4 linked regions of the Homo sapiens genome follow. The protein of the gene in region 2 purifies or fractionates together with the protein of the main gene of each other region. This does not show direct contact. Each region holds a gene or a part of one and is shown on either strand. Other genes may lie near its edges.

Region 1 (5,010 bases), on a different chromosome or scaffold from region 2:
GGGACTTCTTAGGGGGCTCCTGCCCAGTCGACTACACTCTCCTTTGAGAAAAACTTCCCACAGGGAGAGTCCTCCCAATATAATTGTTTGTACTAAATTAGCTGGGCCCTTGAAACATAGCTGATTGAACCTAGGTGAAAACCTGACCCAAGTTGGACCAAGTGAATTCTCTTTTCTGGAAATTCAGAATTAGTACTAAGAAATGCTGGTCAAGCTCTATTAGGTTCTTGACTTGGGAAGTGGTGTGACACTGAACTAAAGTGGGGATGGAACATATTTCACCATATGCACAGGAAAAAAAAAGCAGAGAGAAAAAGGCTGGGAGCAGAGGGTGAGAGAAAGAGGACAGATCAGGAAAGAGAGAGAGGAGGAGGATGGGGACTGATGACATAAGAGAGAAGGGCTCTGGGCCTCATGGTTCATGTAACATTGTGCCATCTATTTTATCTTTCCAGATTCTTGTGTTCAGCTGTGGAAGATTTTGTGGTTGATATTGTAAAGGCCTGGGGTCAGATAAAACAGAACAACACTGCAATAGTGTCTGTGATTTTGAAAGTAAGTTCCCATTCCTTTTGTCTTATACTCTTTGTGGAGCAGCCAGGGGCCCTTTTTAATAAAAAGCAAACATGCCTCTCACTGGGAATGGTAAAAGAAAGGAAAGGAGGGGCAGCTGTTAAGCCTCCCTGATGAGGAAGGTCTAACCTCATTGAACTTCCATCTTTTGCTAAATGAAGGATGGCGCTCTGCATGCATACACACATACCATGTACATGCCAAGCATCTGCCCACAACTAGACACAAGTGTACATCAAGCAGGTATGTGCATGGTTGTACACCAGAACATGCTTACAAGTATGTACATACGAATACACACTACAAATACATTCACATTTACCTCTCTAACAACAATAGCCAACATTTATATAGCACTTACTCTGTGTCAAGGACTGTTCTGTTTTTAATGTATTAATGTATTTATTCCTCACAACTACCCTAGAATATGGAGGCACAAAGCGGTTAAGAAACTTGCCTCAGATCGCAAACTATTAAGTGATGGAGCTAAGAATCAAGGCCTTAAATCATGCAGCAGATGTAGGTCCCCAAGCCTGTACACATACAAAGACACACACCAAGCACCCAAGCAGGGACACGTTCATATCCAGAGGAGCGTGCCCATGAAAATCCAGAAATATTTGTCTTTCCTCAAGTTTGCATGTTATACATTGTTTTATAGGCCCGTTTGACACAAGAAAGACTCAGCTATATACACTGATGCATGGGGCCACTCAGAAACAAATGATATGTGTTTGATCTCCTAACACCCTTTGGTTATCTCATCACATCTTCCCACCTACTTCTTTTGCTAAGTACTTCATCTTCTCACATGTGGTTTTCTATGCTCAGCATTTATGGACAACTCTTACCCCTCCCTACCCTTCCCCATATCACCACCACTCCTCATTCTGTCCTCTCAAGCATGGGTCCCTCATAACAATGCCCTGTCTCCTTCCTTTCTATATAGAGTGACTTAATGTATGATAGGCTCAGTGTCCTGATCGATGTCCTGGCTGAGGAGGCAGCAGCTACTTCTGCTGAAAAAAGTGCTACAGAATATGCAGACAGCAGCAAGGCAGATAGGAAGCCCTTCATTCCTCAAATAGACCACATAGCCAAGTGCAAGTTGGAGCTGGCTACAAAGGCCCAGAGTCTCCAGAAATCCTTGAAACTCATCATATTTCAAGTTGAACAAGGTAAGGTGGCCAGGGTTGTAGTGACTGAGGTAGGGGAAAGAAAAAGTTCCAGAGGATGGTTTACTGGCCTCACTGACTCCGGGTTTGCTCTCTGACTCTGCTACAAAAAGTCTAGATTCTGCATTCATATTGTATACAAAGTCAGTATTCAGACTACTGATTTGAAAAGCCTCAGTCCTGCTAAGCTGCCCCTTTGGCTCCTCCTACCTCCCAGACAGTCAACTCCTGCTACTCATTTTTGGAAACCAACACTCATCCTATACAATTATATTAATAGATGCTAAGTGACCTGGTTCAAAGCTCTATCAGCTTCCACCACCAGCCATAAGACTTTTTTCCTCCTTCTCCTGTTTCTTTCCAACCACTGAGCCTATGACTATTTTAGAAAGAAAATGGTGTTCAACTCTGCATGTGTTGCACATGATTAATCAGGCACAAGGGCCCTGAGAGTGGTCCTGACAGTTCTAGCATTAATTACCATTGCTCAGAACTCACGACAGTCTGCAAACTTCCCAACTCAGAATGAAAACTCTTCAACTCCCTCAGTTTCTTCATTGAATGTTTTGCTGACCACTTCTTTCCCACAATACTTTGAGAAACAGATCAGAAGGTGGTATAAGAATGAGTGTATTCTAACTGAACTATTGGAACTGAGCAGAAGTCCCATGCAGCAAGGAAGTCCCTTTGGCTGGCCCTTGACTTTTAGCCATGGTGCCTTGCCCTGCCTTGGTACCTTCACGTACAACCTCAGCCAAGTTTCCTAGAAAGAAAGAAAATCTCCCTTCTGCACAGTGGAAGGATTAAACAATCAATTTGCCTCTATTTCTATAATTAGTTTCCAAGCAGTGTGGATCAGATTAAACGGATGTAGCCATAACTGTCGCAACCAACCCTCAGTCTGCTCCATCAACACATATGTTAGATTTAGAGGTGTAGCTTGTGGCTATGAGATAGGAAAATACCTCCCTGGTAGGGGTAGAGATTGAACCTATGAGCTTTGACACAGGCTGAGACTGGGCATCTCAGCTATACAACATTTGGCTGGTGAAAGGAAAGAGACTTCCCAAATGTTCCAGGTGTGGAGTGAGACATTAGAGTGAAAGAGTGGCACAGTCCTAGAGGCTCAATTATAGACAAAAGCCACATAAGTAAATGAACTAATAGAATGGAGGTAGAAGAGCAGAGAGTTTCCCATGCTGATACCCCAATCCACAGCCACAAGCTTCTACTCACAACCACATGTACTGGGTGAGAGAAAAAAGAGTAACCAGTAAAACAAAGAAAGCTCAGGCATGAATATGAAAAAACAGCAACACTGTAAGCAAGCTGAGACTACAAACAGTATCATGGAGGAGACGTGATGGTCGAATGGGAGTCTCCATCATCTACCCACTAACTAAACAAAATAGATGCTCGATAAATGTTCAATAAGTGTAATTAATCTTTCCTTCCTTCCATCCTCCCTCCCTCCTTTCTTCCTCCCTCCCTTCCTCCTTTCTTTTTTGCTTTCCTTCCTCCCACTTTTCTCTATAGCTCTGGATGAGGAAAGCAGACAGACAATATCTGTTAAGAACTTTAGTTCAACTTTCTTCCTGGAAGATGACCCAGAAGATATTAACCAGACAAGCCCACGACGCCGTAAGGATCTTTCTGTCTTCTTCCCTTATTCTAGCCTTCGTCACTGTTGTTTAGCTCCCAAAGAATAAATATGTATTTTTTATGCATCCTCTTTTAGCCATAATCCTGCAGTAGATACCCCTCCGTCTTTCCCAGAAACTCACACTATAAGATCCCATGCCAATGTCCAGAGTAATGACCCCATTAGGAACATTGAAGAGGCTGGCCTGATGAAATACAAGATTTGAAGTTGTTTTCACTGCCAGCAAGCAAGCAGCCCAGCTTTATTCTTCTCTCAGTGGAAGTCCCTATCCATCCAAGAGGATCCCTCTTTGGAATTAGAACCCTTAATATTATCTAGGAGAAAGTCACTGAGCTTGACCCTGCCTCCACAGAGAAAATAGGGCGAAATACAAGTGAGGGGAAAGGGCTTTTTTGTTTGTATCCGTCACCCAAGTGATGTCTTTTGTGTCTAGGTTCTCGTCGTGGCACTTTGTCTTCTATATCTTCTCTCAAAAGTGAGGACCTGGACAACCTTAACTTGGATCACTTACATTTTACACCTGAATCTATGTAAGTATTTAACTCTATCACCTTTTAATGGCTTCTTTCTTTCTCTTGTTAAGAGCACAATCTTAGGATATCCATAGTCAAATCCTTTCTCTTACTTACTAGCTGTGTCACCTACGCAAGTGACTAAACCAGTGTGAGCCTCAGTTTTCTCATATGTAAAATGAAGACCATTGTAGAACTTGCATCATGGGTTTGCTGTATTTATTACATTTATATATGAAAAGTACTTGCACTGAGTAGTGCTTGGCACCCATAATTAAGTGTTATATGCATTTGCAGTTATTATTGTTATTATTATAAATAATTAATAAATGTTAGTTGTTGTTATTACAGAGGACTTGCTTTTTTTCACTGTTGCCCTTAACAGTAAATGGTTGAAGATACTAAAAACTAAAATGGTCACTAGGGGACTAGGCAGCAAATCTAAGGACATCTGTCTCACCAGTTCTCCCTCTTTAGAATATCGGCAGCAGCCAAGTTCTGCCACACTCACTCATTCTGAGTTCCATTAAGAAGATCAGTTTGGACATTAGTTAGAGAAACTCCAATCTCTGGACTGTGGTTGAGGGAGGCAAATCTCATGTGAGAGATGTAAGGTCAGTATGGTAATGAATAAAAAAGTAATCTAAGATTAAACAGCTAAACTGTATCCATTTAATTTCTCAAAAGGACACAGCTAGAAATTATTTATGTTTTCTTAAATAATTTATTTAAGAAAACAATTTTTATTCCTGTCTCCAACCCGCATTCTTGCCCCCACACTTCACCATTGGCTCAAATTTATGTCTGAGCTCTCATGGATCTACCTAATGAATTTTGATCAATAGTGCACTGGCAAAGTGTTTAACAACCTCCTCTCTTGGGGGAGAAAGCCCTGATTCATTTATGGTGTAAACCCTTCCACCATGGCCTATTTAAGTTAGTGATATAATGCCATTGAATCTGGAGTTGGAAAGAGATATGCATAATCAGTTTACATGAGCTGGTGCCAACTGGCTATGGCACACCACTGGTTTTGATGCTGACACCCTAGATGGACACAGGAGACTTGACAAATAATTTGGCTTTT
Region 2 (3,829 bases):
TCCAAGGAGCGGAGGATGAAGCAGCTGAGCGCCCTGGGCGCCCGGCGCCACGCCTTCTTCCGCAGTCCGCGCCGGATGCGGCCGCTGGTGGACCGCCTGGAGCCGGGCGAGCTCATCCCCAATGGTCCCTTCTCCTTCTACGGAGGTGGGTGCGCGCCGAATGGCGGGGCGCGGCCAGGTCGGGGCGGGCTTCGTTGGAAGCGGGTGGCAGCGCGGGGGGGCACGCCTCGCTCTCTGTAAGCCACTGGAGAGTTGGGGCGAGTAGGGAGAAGGCTGGGAGTAAATCAAGGGGAGGCGGCGAGACCGAGGACCCAATTCACGGCCCTGAATAACGGGGGTAGCTGGTAAGGGGCAGCTCCCGGGCTTGCGCCCAGCCTCCTCCCTGCACCCAGGCCCGCGAGGGCTCCCCGCGATCCGCGAGTTCCCCGCGCGGCCTTCCTCAGCCCGCCGAGGTCGCGTCTTCCCTCCCTTTCGGTCCCGCCGGCCCCCGGCCGGGCCCTGACGTCCTGCGCCCTCCCCGCCGCTCCGCAGATTACCAGAGCGAGTACTACGGGCCCGGGGGCAACTACGACTTCTTCCCGCAAGGCCCCCCGTCCTCGCAGGCCCAGACACCAGTGGACCTACCCTTCGTGCCGTCATCTGGGCCGTCCGGGACGCCCCTGGGTGGCCTGGAGCACCCGCTGCCGGGCCACCACCCGTCGAGCGAGGCGCAGCGGTTTACCGACATCCTGGCGCACCCACCCGGGGACTCGCCCAGCCCCGAGCCCAGCCTGCCCGGGCCTCTGCACTCCATGTCGGCCGAGGTCTTCGGACCCAGCCCGCCCTTCTCGTCGCTGTCGGTCAACGGTGGGGCGAGCTACGGAAACCACCTGTCCCACCCCCCCGAAATGAACGAGGCGGCCGTGTGGTAGCGGGGTCTCGCACGGTCTGCGGAGTTCGTGGTTGTACAGAAATGAACCTTTATTTAAGAAAAATAGAAAAAAAAAAACATAAAAAGCAAGTCCCCACCCCCTTCCTCCAGCCTCGAGAACCATTCTCCTTCTGGGGAGACCGGATGGAAAAGGGGGACACGAAATAGGATCCAAATCGGCCTCGAGGTGGGACTGGGATCCGCGCACTGGCTGTCGACGTGCAGAACTGGGGCTCCCCAAAGGAAACGCAGACCTCTCCCCAACTCCCACCTGGACCCGGATCCGTAGACAGACCCCGCGGGCGTGTGCGCCTGGCAGGCGGGCGGCGAAAAGACGTCCAGGGCAGCCGCGGGTGCGCACAGCCGTTGGCGATGCCAGGAGCCGTGGGGAGGGAGGCCGTGAGCACAGCCGGGTGAAGGAAGTGAAGCGGCCCAGGGCGCTCCCGGGCCAGCCAGGAGGGTTCTAGCTCTGGGATATCCCTTATTAGTGTTGTCTCAGAGTTCAACAACAGCGACAAAAAACTCTTATAGCTTCAGAAACGCCGACCTGCCGTGCATCAGGTGGGACTATATATATATTTTTTGTCTATCTGGATTTTTGGTTTTTGTTTTTGCCAAAATTGCAAAATTCTAAATGTAAAGCCCTCCGTATCAACTCTTCTACCTTCGCAAAACTACACATACACACATACACACGTACACGGACACACTCGGTAAGATGGTCTCCAGCCAGACCGCTCAGTAAAATGACTTGAACATCAGCTGTACAAGAAAAGTATTCTACCTTCACACACAAAAAGTTAAAAAAAAAAAAAAAGACTATTGAACTAAAAACAGTCAACTGTTTACGTATAATGTTAAATTCAGGAGTTCAGTGTTTTACTAATATATCCTGTTTTGAAACCTCTTGTTCGAAAACAAAATGTTTTGAGCAATCAACCAAAATTGTTCCTTTTCTTTTCCTGTAGATGTTCTGACAGATTTGCAGGGCTTTCGGCTCACTGTGCTAGTATGTAAAAAGGTGTTGTTTACACGAGGCAAAGAGAAAACATGCTATTCAGACAGTTGCCAAATAGAATAATTATAGCACAAATACTGTAAAGGTGCCTGGCACCAGCAACCTGAGAAAGTGTTAAAAAAAAAAAAAAAAAAGTGTTACAAGATTTAAAAAAAAACATCTTTGCTAATTTTTTTGTCCTGTTGAACATTCATGGAATTGTTAATATGACTTATATAGACCCACACAGGTTTTATTTTTGTGTCTTTAAAATAAAAGTCCAAAATATTTAAATTTTATGGTCAAATATGCAGTCAACAGCTGCTACTTTTTCTTTATATATTAAATTTCTCATATGTCTTTTATTGTTCTAATAAACCTAAGCTTGTGTGACCTCCAGTGCATATTAGACCATTCACTGTATGAAAGAAAACATGTTGAATAAATTTGTGAGTTTTTAATAAAAATAGAAAATCTGATGTTTAGATAATTGGTGTGTTATTTGATGTTTTCAAAGGGGAACCCTGATGGGGAGCTGAATGGGTCCTCAGAAGCCAGGTGGAAAAGAGAGGCAGGATTGGGATGATATATCTGTTTTTGCCTTGGCTATGGCTGAAACCTTTTGCTAATGCCAGCCAAGCTTTTCTCTGTGGCTTCCTGCTGTTATTAGCTACAGATTTACATCCTGTGGATTTAACTGATACCGTTGAAGAGATGTTTGCTGATAAGTTAATATAGAATTTGAAATAGAAATCAAATCCATGGCTAAAAAATGAGTGGTCCAGGTCTGTGATTAGGCATAAGATCCAAGGCATTCCCTCTTTCACTCTCCCTGCACATGCAAAACTGGGCTTGTATCAGATACTTGTAATACATAGTTAGAGGTGGTCCTTTTCAGTTTCATTTCATTTCCTATAGATAATCCGGCTTTCTAATTTGGTAGTTTGAAAGATAATGTAAAGGCTTTCTAATTTGGTGGTTTGAAAGATAATGTAAAATGAATGTATAGTACAGCTAGAAATGAAATACTTTAATCCCTTTCACAGAACTGATATGAAATTGTTGTTTTATAGTATTTGTTACCTTTGAAGTTCCCCAGAAGGAAAACTATTTTGCCTGGCACAAGATACATATTAAGTTTCTCTGAAAGATGAACAAAAATAACTAATATCAAAATCAAATTTCAACTCAAAAGGTTCTAAAAGTAGCTCGATTCTTTCCAGTCCTTCATTAGACTTGGAAGAAATTTGAATATTTTATCTACTATGAAATATTCTTGTGGATGTGTGTGTGTTTCAGTATCAGATGCTATTAGAGTTCCAGGATTTCTTTTCCATATCACCTAGATTTCACTCTGGATTATTTATTTCCTTATTTAAAAAGTCAAAGGTTTGACATTAAATGGTATATAATTTCCAGTGCTGTTTTCAAATTTTGTTAAGACACAGCCAAGTTTATCTTTCCTGCAGAGAAGGCTTTAAAATAAGCAATATTTCACTGCATCCATATGATGGCTTATCTAATGGGGGAGGAGGCTATCCGGGAGGAATCTGGCAGTGTTCTTTCAGAAATAAAAATGTATGAAATACAGAGGAGACTTTTGAAACTCCCAGCCTCTGCATGCAGCACATTTCTTTATTTGCTTTATATGCAATCACTGGATCGGCTTGTTTTTACCTTTTTAGCATTTATACACATTAAATCCTAGCTAACTTATTCATTATAGCCTCTACTCCCTAGCCCCCTTTAAAGACATTCATTTAAATGAACTGCGCTCACTGGGAAGCTGCATTTTCCTATCAAGGCTGCTGAATTATTTAGCAGCTTTATTGTGCAATCGGGGTATTTGATAAGAAGCGTTTTCGAGTTGGGCACACGATGTGGATTCGATTCTTCTAACAACGTGGTTGTGGCGCAGTCTC
Region 3 (5,010 bases), on a different chromosome or scaffold from region 2:
CTGAGACTGAATTTCAAATAGCTCATCATAAAAAATTATAGGCAAGGCAATGTTAATTAGCCTGATTTAATCATTACATGTTGTATATATGTATCAAAACATCACGCTATACCGCATAAATGTATACAATTATAATTTGCCAATCAAAAATAATACTGATAATAAATTTTTAAAGCTAATGATGTAGAAGATAGAGCTGAAGAAATTATCCATAAAATAGGAGAGTGAGACAAAGAGAGAAATTATGAGAGATTAAGAAGCTTGGATGATCCACTTAAACTGCAGTGAAAATGCAGAAGCAGAAAATTTAAAAAGCTACAAGAGAAAATAGAGATGAACTACAAATATATAACAAACTGACAGGAAGCTTCAACAGCTATAATCGAAGTCAGAAGACAATAAAATACTAGTTTTGATGCATTTAGGAAAAATATCTGTCAGTGAAGAATTCTTTAAGTAATTCAATTCTTTAAGAAAAGTCAAGAGAGCAGAGCCGTAAGAACCAGAGGAAAACAAATTAAGCCTGAAATCAGTCCTATTCAGACTTCCAGTTATATGAACCAATAGACTTCCTTATTAAAAACTGATTTGGTTTGTTTACCTATTGGTAAAAACTTTGTAAGGACTTAAAGACCATGACATTTTAATTAAATAATCATATGTGTTTCACCCCATCAAACCCTATATGTTTTTATGAGTATGGGAAAAGGTGTGGAAGAGTTCACATCTAGGAGAATGACAACAGGCATTCAATAGAGTTACAAAGAGGTTTTTTTTTGTTTTTTTTTTGAGATGGAGTCTCACTCTGTCACCCAGGCTGGAGTGCAGCAGCACGATCTCGGCTCACTGCAATCTCTGCTTTCCGGGTTCAAGTGATTCTCCTGCCTCAGCCTCCCGAGTAGCTGGGACTACAGGCGCGCACCACTGCGCCCAGCTAATTTTTGTTTTTTGTTTTTTCTTTTTTTTTAAGAGATGGTGTTTCACCATGTTGGTCAGGCTGGTCTCCAACTCCTGACCTCGTGATCCACCCACTTTGGCCTCCCAAAATGCTGGGATTACAGGTGTGAGCCACCGCACCCAGCTTTTTTTGCTTTTACATCTTTGTATTGTTTGACTTACTCTAAGGAGGTTGTATATTACTTTTATAATTGGAAGTAAAAAAATTCATAAAGGAGACAGGTGTGGTGGCATGTGCCTGTAGTCCCAGCTACCCAGGAGGCTGGTTGAAGTGGGAGTATCACTTGTGCCCAAATTCAAATTCAGCCTAGGCAACATAGTGAGACCCCATATCTCTCTTTTTTTTAACTTTTATTTTAGGCTTGGGGATACATGTGAAGGTTACATAGGTAAACGTGTTAAAAACCACAATTATTTTTGCACCAACTTAGTATTTCATCACCCAGATATAAAGCCCAGTACCCAATAGTTAACTTTTCTGTGCCTCTCTGTCCTTCCACCCTCCCTCCTCAAGTAAATCCCAGTGTCTGTTGTTTCCGTCTTTGTGTTCATAAGTTCTTACCATTTAGCTCTCACTTCTAAGTGAGAACACGTGGTATTTAGTTTTCTGTTTCTGTGTTAGTTTGCTAAGGATAATAGCCTCCAGCTCAACCCATATTCCCACAAAAGACATGATCTCATTCTTTTTTATGGCTGCATAGTATTTCATGGTGTATATGTACCACATTTTCTTTATCCAAACTGTCATTGCTGGGCATTTAGTTGATTCCATGTCTTTGCTATTGTGAATAGTGTTGCACTGAACATTCGCATGCATGTGTCTTTATGGTAGAATGATTTATATTCCTCTGGGTGTGTACCCAGTAATGGGATTGCTGGAGACCCTATCTCTTAAAAAAAAAAAAAAAGTATATATACACACACACAGACTCACATAAAACCCAAATATATATATTAAATTATTAAATATATTATTCTCCCCAAAACCCAGCCATTTATATATATATATTTATATAATACTTAAAAGCCATTTATATATATATATATATATATATATAAATGGACCTCAAAGGTATCTTTCACTCTTCTTCCTTAGTATCTTGGCACATGTTGTGCCTTCTAATCCATTGTCTTGTTCCACTTACTCCCTTATGCCTATATATATATATATATACACACACACACACACACACACACATATATGGCTTTTGAGTTTTTGTTTTTTTATATACATATTTATATATACATATACATTTATATGTATATGAATATATTATATATTTTGTATATGTATAAAATGTGTGTATATATAATAGATATGTGTGTGTATGTATATAAAACAAAAAATAATAAATACTCAAAAGACATTTTTTCCCAAAGATCAATAAAGTAGTCCTATCTACTTTATACATGTAATATTAGGCATGTATACCTGTAGATAAAATGGAAATAGGAGATATTCCAAATGGCATCAGGTATATTATACAAGTAAATTTTAAAAATTAGATGAAATGGCCAGTTTACCAGAAAATATTGAAATTTGGCTCTATACAAAAATGAAAGACTAATAAAAATTTTTAAAAATTGATATAGCTATATTCTCCCAAAAACTCACCCAGATAGTTTTACATGTTTGGTAAACGTCTGGTTCACTCATTCAATAGATACTTTTTAGTGCCTATTATGCCCTTAAAAAAGTATTGTTGTTCTAGGCTCAGGGTTTATTTTCTAGCTAACATTTTTTGAGTGCTTATTTGGTGCTAGATACCATTCCTTTTACATGTATTAGCATATTTATTCTTCACAATAATATATAGTGGGGAGCAGGTGATTACTGTTAAAGTATAGAAACTGGTACAGAGAGGCTCAATACCTTGTGGCCAAAACGATCTTTTAAAAAACACAGATCGAGTTAACCTGCTTATAACTATTCAGTGGCGTATTACTGGTCTCTGCAAAAGACCCATATCCTTAACAAGGACCTAAAAGCCCACAATGATTTGGTTGCTGTTGCTACTGACTTCTCTAAAGTAGACTTGTACCACTTTTCTCTCTCTGTATCCTATCTTTCAGGACCTCAAAGGTATCTTTCTCTCTTCTTCCTTAGTATCTTGGCACGTTGTTGTTCTTTTTTACCCATTGTCTCGTACCACTCATTCCATTATGCCTAGTGAAAGTCTGATAATTCTGTAGATCTTAACTCTACTTCTGGATGTCTTTCAATTTCCAGATAAAATGAAGTCCTCCTACTGAGCCCACTCATAGTCTTATGAACTTACCTTCATTACCCCTAGTAAATATTTTGACATGTATTTGTGTAATAATTTGATTAATTAATACTTGATTGTATGAGGGCACAGACTATACACACACACACACACACAAACATATATATATATATTTTTTTGAGGCAGGGTCTCGCTCTTGTCACCGAGGCTGGAGTACAGTGGTGTGATCACAGCTCACCATAGCCTCAACCTCCTGGGCTCAAGTGATCCTCCCACCTCAGCCTCCCAAGTAGCTGGAACCACAAGTGTGTGCTACCATGCCTGGCTAACTTTATTTTTGGTAGAGATGGGGTCTTGCTATGTTGTCCAGGCTGGTGTGAAACGCCTGTGCTTGAGTGATCCTCCCACCTTGGCCTCCCAAACTGTTGGGATTACAGGTGTGAGCCACTGCACCTAGCTGATATTTTCACTCACCATTGTATCCCTAGCAACTTGGATAGTGCTGACACATATCAAGCACGCAAGAATGACTTAAATTTCTAAATGGATTATCTATTTTAGTCATAAGATACATGAATTGGCATTAAAGTTTTCAAGAACCTCTATCAATATAATGTGAGGCTAGTCAATTATCCAAAAAGTATTCTCCTAAAACCTAAAAAGTAAGAAATTAGTAAAATTTTCAATAAGTAACCAAGGACAAAACTAGATTGTTCTATAAAATTTTAAAAACTAACTTTAAGACAAAAATTAGTAGGATGTAGTTACTGGGAAATTAAACAAGTTGGGAAATACAAACAGGGTGGAAGATGATAGTTACCCTACACATCTCACCAACACTGTCTAGGATTACAGACAAATGATTTTACCTCTTTCCTTAATCAAAACAAATTGTTTAGGGAGAATGTTTTAAAGGAATAGTCCCAGCCGGGCGCGGTGGCTCACACCTATAATCCCAGCACTTTGGAGGCTGAGGCTGGCAGATCACTTGAGATCAGGAGTTTGGGACCAGTCTGGCCAACATAGTGAAACCCCGTCTCTACTAAAAATACAAAAATTAGCTGGGTGTGGTGGCACATGCCTGTAATCCAGCTACTCGGGAAGCTGAGGCGGGAGAATCACTTGAACTCGGGAGATGAAGGTTGCTGTGGGCCAAGGTCGCGCCACTGCACTCCAGCCTGGGTAACAGAGTGACAGAGGGAGACTCTGTCTCAAAAAAAAAAAAAAAAAAAAAAAAAAAGGAACAGTCCCTTTAAGAGTGACTAAAGATGTAAAGAATAAAGCTAAACCAAGCCAGCTACATAACTATAGAGGTATAAATGTAAAATTAACATTCATTGATTATTTACTATGTGTCAGGGATGATCTATGAGCATTTTTTAATAGACTACTTTACACTGAATATGAGCATTTATTAACTCATGCTTTTTCAAATCAACTCTATGATGTAGTTACAATTATTATCTCTATTTTACAAGTGAGAAGATCACATAAGTTTTAAGTAGGCAGAGTCAAGATTTGAACCCAGGCTAAGGTTAAGAGCTGGTGCTCTTAACTATAAGAGGACAGTAGTTAAAATAGATATCTTCCCTAATATGTGTGTAAATACTGAAGATTTTTTTATTAATACAAATTGTTTTCTTATCTAGACTATTTCACTAGCCCTCTAGTTAGTTTCCTTGACTCTAATTTTGCTCTCCTTAAATCCATTTTCCACACTGCATCCAGTGATCTGCTTAAATCTTAAATGGACTTGTACAAAATTAAGGAAAACCTACTCAGCACGGCAAACAAGGCTATGATTCATGCTTAATGACCCCAGCCT
Region 4 (5,010 bases), on a different chromosome or scaffold from region 2:
TCTTTTGGCTTCCCCGAGCCACATGGGAAGAAGAAGAATTGTCCTGGGCCACATATAAAATACACTAACACTAACCATAGCTGATGAGCTAAAAAAAAAAAAAAAAAAAAAAAAAAAATCGCAAAAAAATCTCATAATGTTTTAAGAAAGTTTACAAATTTGTGTTGGGCTGCAGGTTGGACAAGCTTAGTCTAGAGGCTGATACTTATGTCCCTGTCCTGTCTAGGCTTTAAAAGACAAACAGAATGGACACTGGTAGTAGCATCCCATGTATACTTGCAGAGATTAGAGAAGGAATTTCCCCCTTGCTTTCATAACGTTAGGCCACAGACGGGTAAAAACAAGCCCAATGTGGATCTGTGGTCTCTCATCTGAAATCCTGGGGACCATGTATAATTTGGAACTTTGAATTATCTGGTCTTAAGTATATGGGGCATATACCACATAGTGACACCTAGCAAGGTAAAGGGCAGCAATTCATAGTTAAACATATTAATATGACCAATCACGCTAAGTGATATTTTAAAAAGATTATAAAGTAGCCTCTCTCCAGTTCAGGTCAGGTTTTACTGGCAAATGAGTTATGAAAACTTGATAGTCTTAAATTTTGGTCATTCTACAATTTCAATTTCTGAATTACAGATAAGAGACTTTAGATCTACACTCTTAGAAAAGGAAATGTATTTTTCTTTACTGTTCTTCTTACCTGCTTTTAGAACTCTTCATCACCACATGAAATAAAATGGTTGAGATTTGGAAATAATGACAAATCATGAAAATAAAAACGTGAGCGGGGCAGAAACTTATCTCAATCTGGGCAAGCTTTTGATTTTCAGAAGCTTACAAAAATAATGAACCATCAGAAGTAGAAAGTGGTAACTCTCAGAGCTTAGAAAATGAAACTGGTTAGGAAAAGTTCCATGTGATTTAGTTCAATGAATTTAGTTTGTCCTCCACCTCTACCCCTGGTTCATTTACTAAAAATAAATTTTTTTTGTTTTTGTTTTTCTTTTTTTTAATTCTGTTTATTCCTCCAGAAGACCCTAAATACAGACATTATAACAAATTTGTTTTAATATCATACTCATGTTTATTCTCCTTCTGCTTGCTTTTCACAAACTGATAATACTAACAGTGTAGATTTAGGAAAGTTCAGCAGCTTTTGTCTCAATTTGCCAAAAAAAAAAGAAAAAAGCATTTAAAAGTAAATGGACTTTTTTTTTTTGAGACAGGGTCTCACTCTGTCCCCAAGCTGGAGTGCAGTGGCACAATCTCGGCTCACTGCAACCTATGCTTCCTGGGCTCAAGCCATTCACCAGCCTCAGCCTCCTGTGTAGCTGGGACTACAGGCGTGAGCCACCAACGCCCAGCTAATTTTTCTATTTTTTGTAGATACGAGGTTTCACCATGTTGTCCAGGCTGGAAAAGTAAATTGACTTTAAAAAAAAGTAAACTGGTTAATATTTAAACTACTGCTTGAAAAGAAATGTAATACACTACTCTCATTAATAAACCAACTTTTAAAACTTTTTATATACCTACAAAGTGACTTTAATTTTGTAAAATGTACTAAGTATTGTTTGCTTACATTCCCCCTCCCCACATTTTCTTTTCCCTATGAAATTCCTCCCAAACCTTTCTCCCCATAGCTTCAAAATTTTAGGAAATATTACATCGTGACTGAAACATGCCTTTTCACTTGTCTTACTAACATGGAAAAGCCAACTTACTCCTTGACTTTTCATCATGGCAGCAGTTTACTTATTTTAGGTTTTCTGCAGTCAGACCACACATACAATGCAATTTCTTCCTCACACTTAGGATTTCATTCTTAAGAAGCCAGTTTGACCTGTGCAACAGCGCCAGACGACACACAGATGTTTGCTCAATAAATATTTGTTGAATTAATGAAGGAAGGAAATAGAAATTCTTCCTAATTCTATTGATATTGACTGAACATTCTTATTACTATTAAAATTTTTTTTAAATGAAAAGGTATCAGTATGTTGCCCAGACTAGACTCAAACTCCTGGGCTCAAGTGATCCTTCCACCTTAGCCTCCAGAATAGCTGGGACTACAGGCATGCACCATCGTGCCCGGATAACTGAACATTTTAAATAATTCTTTGCAAAGAAATTTTAGCCAGGGCAGGCGCGGTGGCTCACATCTGTAATCCCAGCACCTTGGGAGGCCGAGGTTGGTGGATCACTTGAGACCACGAGTTTGAGACCAGCCTGGCCAACATGGTGAAACCCCGTCTCTACTTAAAAATAAATAAATAAATAAATAAATAAATAAATAAAATGAAAAAATAAACTTAAGAGTTTTTTTTAAAAAAAGCTTTAGCCAGATTCCATTTATTTTAGGTTGCTTAATCATAAATGAGTAACCTCAAACACCATAGACCAGCATTAGAATAGTAGCTAAACTAGCAAGTTCATTTCTGTAGGTTTTGTGATTTCCTGTTTTTCCATACTCCCAAAAGGCGTTTTCCAAAAACACAACTTCACAATTGAGGCACCCAGGGATCCTAAATGGTTAAGAGATCTATACGTTCTTGAGACTTGTTTCCTGAGGGTCAAACTGATTTTTCCAGCATGGAGAAAACACAGGACAGCCAGGTGCGGTGGCTCACACTTGTAATCCCAGCACTTTGGGAGGCCGAGGTGGGCGGATCACGAGGTCAGGAGTTCGAGACCAGCCTGGCCAATACAGTGAAACCCCGTCTCCACTAAAAATACAAAAATTAGCTGGGCGTGGTGGCAGGTGCCTGTAATCCCAGCTACTCGGGAGGCTGAGGCAGGAGAATCACTTGAACCCAGGAGACAGAGGTTGCAGTGAGCTGAGATTGTGTCACTGCACTCCAGCCTGGGCAACAGAGCAAGACTCTGTTTGAAGAAAAAAAAAAAAAAAAAAACACAGGACAAGCCTAGATAGTCTGTCCATTGTAGATAAATGATTCTTTACAAGGGATCCAACAACTATTTATCAGCCTTTTTTTTTTTTTTTTGAGACAGATTCTCGCTCTGTCGTCCAGGCTGGAGTGCAGTGGTGTGATCTCGGTTCACCGCAACCTCCACTTCCCGGGTTCAAGCAATTCTCCTGCCTCAGCCTCCCGAGTAGCAGGGATTACAGGCATGTGCCACCACGCTTGGCTAATTTTTGATTTTTAGTAGAGACGGGGTTTCTCCATGTTGGTCAGGCTGGTCTTGAACTTCCAACCTCAAGTGATCTGCCCACCTTGGCATACCAAAGTGCTGGGATTACAGGCGTGAGCCACCACGCCTAGCTATCAGCCTTTTTTAATTTTTTAATATCAACCCTTGCTGGAATTTTAGAAGAAACAGAGTAGTAATAACTATAGTACAGCGTGAACCATTCTGATGAAAGACACACAAGGAAAAATTATTTAGATAACAAAATAAAATCTCTCTTCTGCAAAGTTAAGTCCTTCACAATGCTGTACTAGGGTTCAGTCACGAGAATTTACCATGTGCCAGAGATGGTACAAGATGCTAAGGACACAAAAATAAATAGGACATAATCCATGTCCTCAGGTAGTGTTTAATTTAGGAGAATGGCTGCTACTATTCTGAATATGAGAAAATGAGCTTGATACAAATCACAAGAGACTCCAGATTGCTCAGTTTGGTTTTTTAATCCTTACGTCAGCAAAACAGAAGGGGAAGAGTCACTACTCATCCAAAACAGTATATACCAAACTTGTCTGATCATATGAATGTCAAGGGGCTTGTTAAAATACAGATTCCCAGAATTATCTCCTGGAGAAGGTTAGGAACTGGTTCTCTACTCGATTCACATGAGCAGGCAACTTTTGGAAACATGATCTAGAAGAAAGCTAAGACATGCAGTAACTCCCTCAAAAAGTTAGAACATTTCTAGAAAATGTAACTTATTAACTGGTTACAGAAAGGGCTGAGCTGCCAAAGAATTTCTTCTGCAAAGCCTTGTCTCAGCAGAAACAACGGGGGAAGACTCATCTTTTAGGCTTCAAAACGAAGTCACATTTGGCAGTGTCCAGGAAGCCAGGATCCTTGCCCACAAGGAGCTCAGTTTCCTTTTTAAAGAGGTGAGAAGGATTCCAAATAGAGAAAAACGTTCAAACATTTGAACCTAAAGTCAGGGAGTCGGTGATCAGTTTGATAACATGGGCAGCACTGTTTGGTGACCAAACAAAATATTATAGAACAGAAAATGTCTATTATCTAACCTATCTGCTCCTCTGTGTCTGAATGCAGACATAGAGTGATGACTATGAGTTACCTTCAATCATCTCTGGAAGGAGGCAGAGCATCCAAATAAATAAAGTAAATAAACAAATAGTAGCTATCATGGTTTTAAGGCAGAATGCAACATATAATGGAAATGAACCTGACAATGGTGACAGATGTCAACGAGATAGTTGCAAGGCAGGTTTAAAGTTTAAAGGTTTGGGAGGCTGAAGCAGGTGGATCACAAGGTCAGGAGTTTGAGACCAGCCTGGCCAGCATGGTGAAACCCCGTCTCTACTAAAAATACAAAAAATTAGCCCGGCGTGGTGGTGCATGCCTGTAGTCCCAGCTACTTGGGAGGCTGACGCAGGAGAATTGCTTGAACCCAGCAGGCAGAGGTTGCAGTGAGCCAAGATCGTGCCACTGCACTCTGGGAAACTGAGCGAGACTCCGCCTCAAAAAAAAAAAAAAAAAAAAGTTTAAAGGTAAGGTGGAGGGAGAAATGGTGTATAAACGAACCTTGCTCTTTCCCACCTGTGCAAAAACACACGGTAGATGCTACTACATGAAAAAGAAATCAGATTAAAAGCAGTTAGGAATCAAGCCACAAAACAGAGTTAATTCCTAAAATGAGAGTATCAGAACTTCTTTTTGAAAATTTAACACTACCCTCACCCATTTTTAAAGGCAGATGATGTCATACTTTGGTGCACGGCCAAAGGACAAAGAACAAGTGTATGCAAAGAGATGGATGGATATGTCAGGAAGTCCGAATAT

The links. Proteins that work in one complex are often made in the same cells at the same time.
Region 1: the proteins of LHX1 (region 2) and DGKK purify together in Homo sapiens (affinity purification with mass spectrometry; one large-scale study listed by BioGRID and IntAct). This does not show direct contact.
Region 3: the proteins of LHX1 (region 2) and TMED5 purify together in Homo sapiens (affinity purification with mass spectrometry; one large-scale study listed by BioGRID and IntAct). This does not show direct contact.
Region 4: the proteins of LHX1 (region 2) and AIFM1 purify together in Homo sapiens (affinity purification with mass spectrometry; one large-scale study listed by BioGRID and IntAct). This does not show direct contact.

Annotation. Positions count from the first base shown.
Region 1 is NC_000023.11:50,383,099-50,388,108, reverse strand, and holds part of DGKK (diacylglycerol kinase kappa), read left to right. Parts: intron 1-455; coding exon 456-555; intron 556-1,522; coding exon 1,523-1,751; intron 1,752-3,284; coding exon 3,285-3,389; intron 3,390-3,844; coding exon 3,845-3,941; intron 3,942-5,010. UniProt on the Homo sapiens protein: Diacylglycerol kinase that converts diacylglycerol/DAG into phosphatidic acid/phosphatidate/PA and regulates the respective levels of these two bioactive lipids.
Region 2 is NC_000017.11:36,942,221-36,946,049, forward strand, and holds the end of LHX1 (LIM/homeobox protein Lhx1), read left to right. Parts: coding exon 1-145; intron 146-531; coding exon 532-911; 3' UTR 912-2,392; downstream 2,393-3,829. UniProt on the Homo sapiens protein: Potential transcription factor. May play a role in early mesoderm formation and later in lateral mesoderm differentiation and neurogenesis.
Region 3 is NC_000001.11:93,173,187-93,178,196, forward strand, and holds part of TMED5 (transmembrane emp24 domain-containing protein 5 isoform 1 precursor), read right to left. Parts: intron 1-5,010. UniProt on the Homo sapiens protein: Potential role in vesicular protein trafficking, mainly in the early secretory pathway. Required for the maintenance of the Golgi apparatus; involved in protein exchange between Golgi stacks during assembly.
Region 4 is NC_000023.11:130,158,615-130,163,624, forward strand, and holds part of AIFM1 (apoptosis-inducing factor 1, mitochondrial isoform AIF precursor), read right to left. Parts: intron 1-5,010. UniProt on the Homo sapiens protein: Functions both as NADH oxidoreductase and as regulator of apoptosis.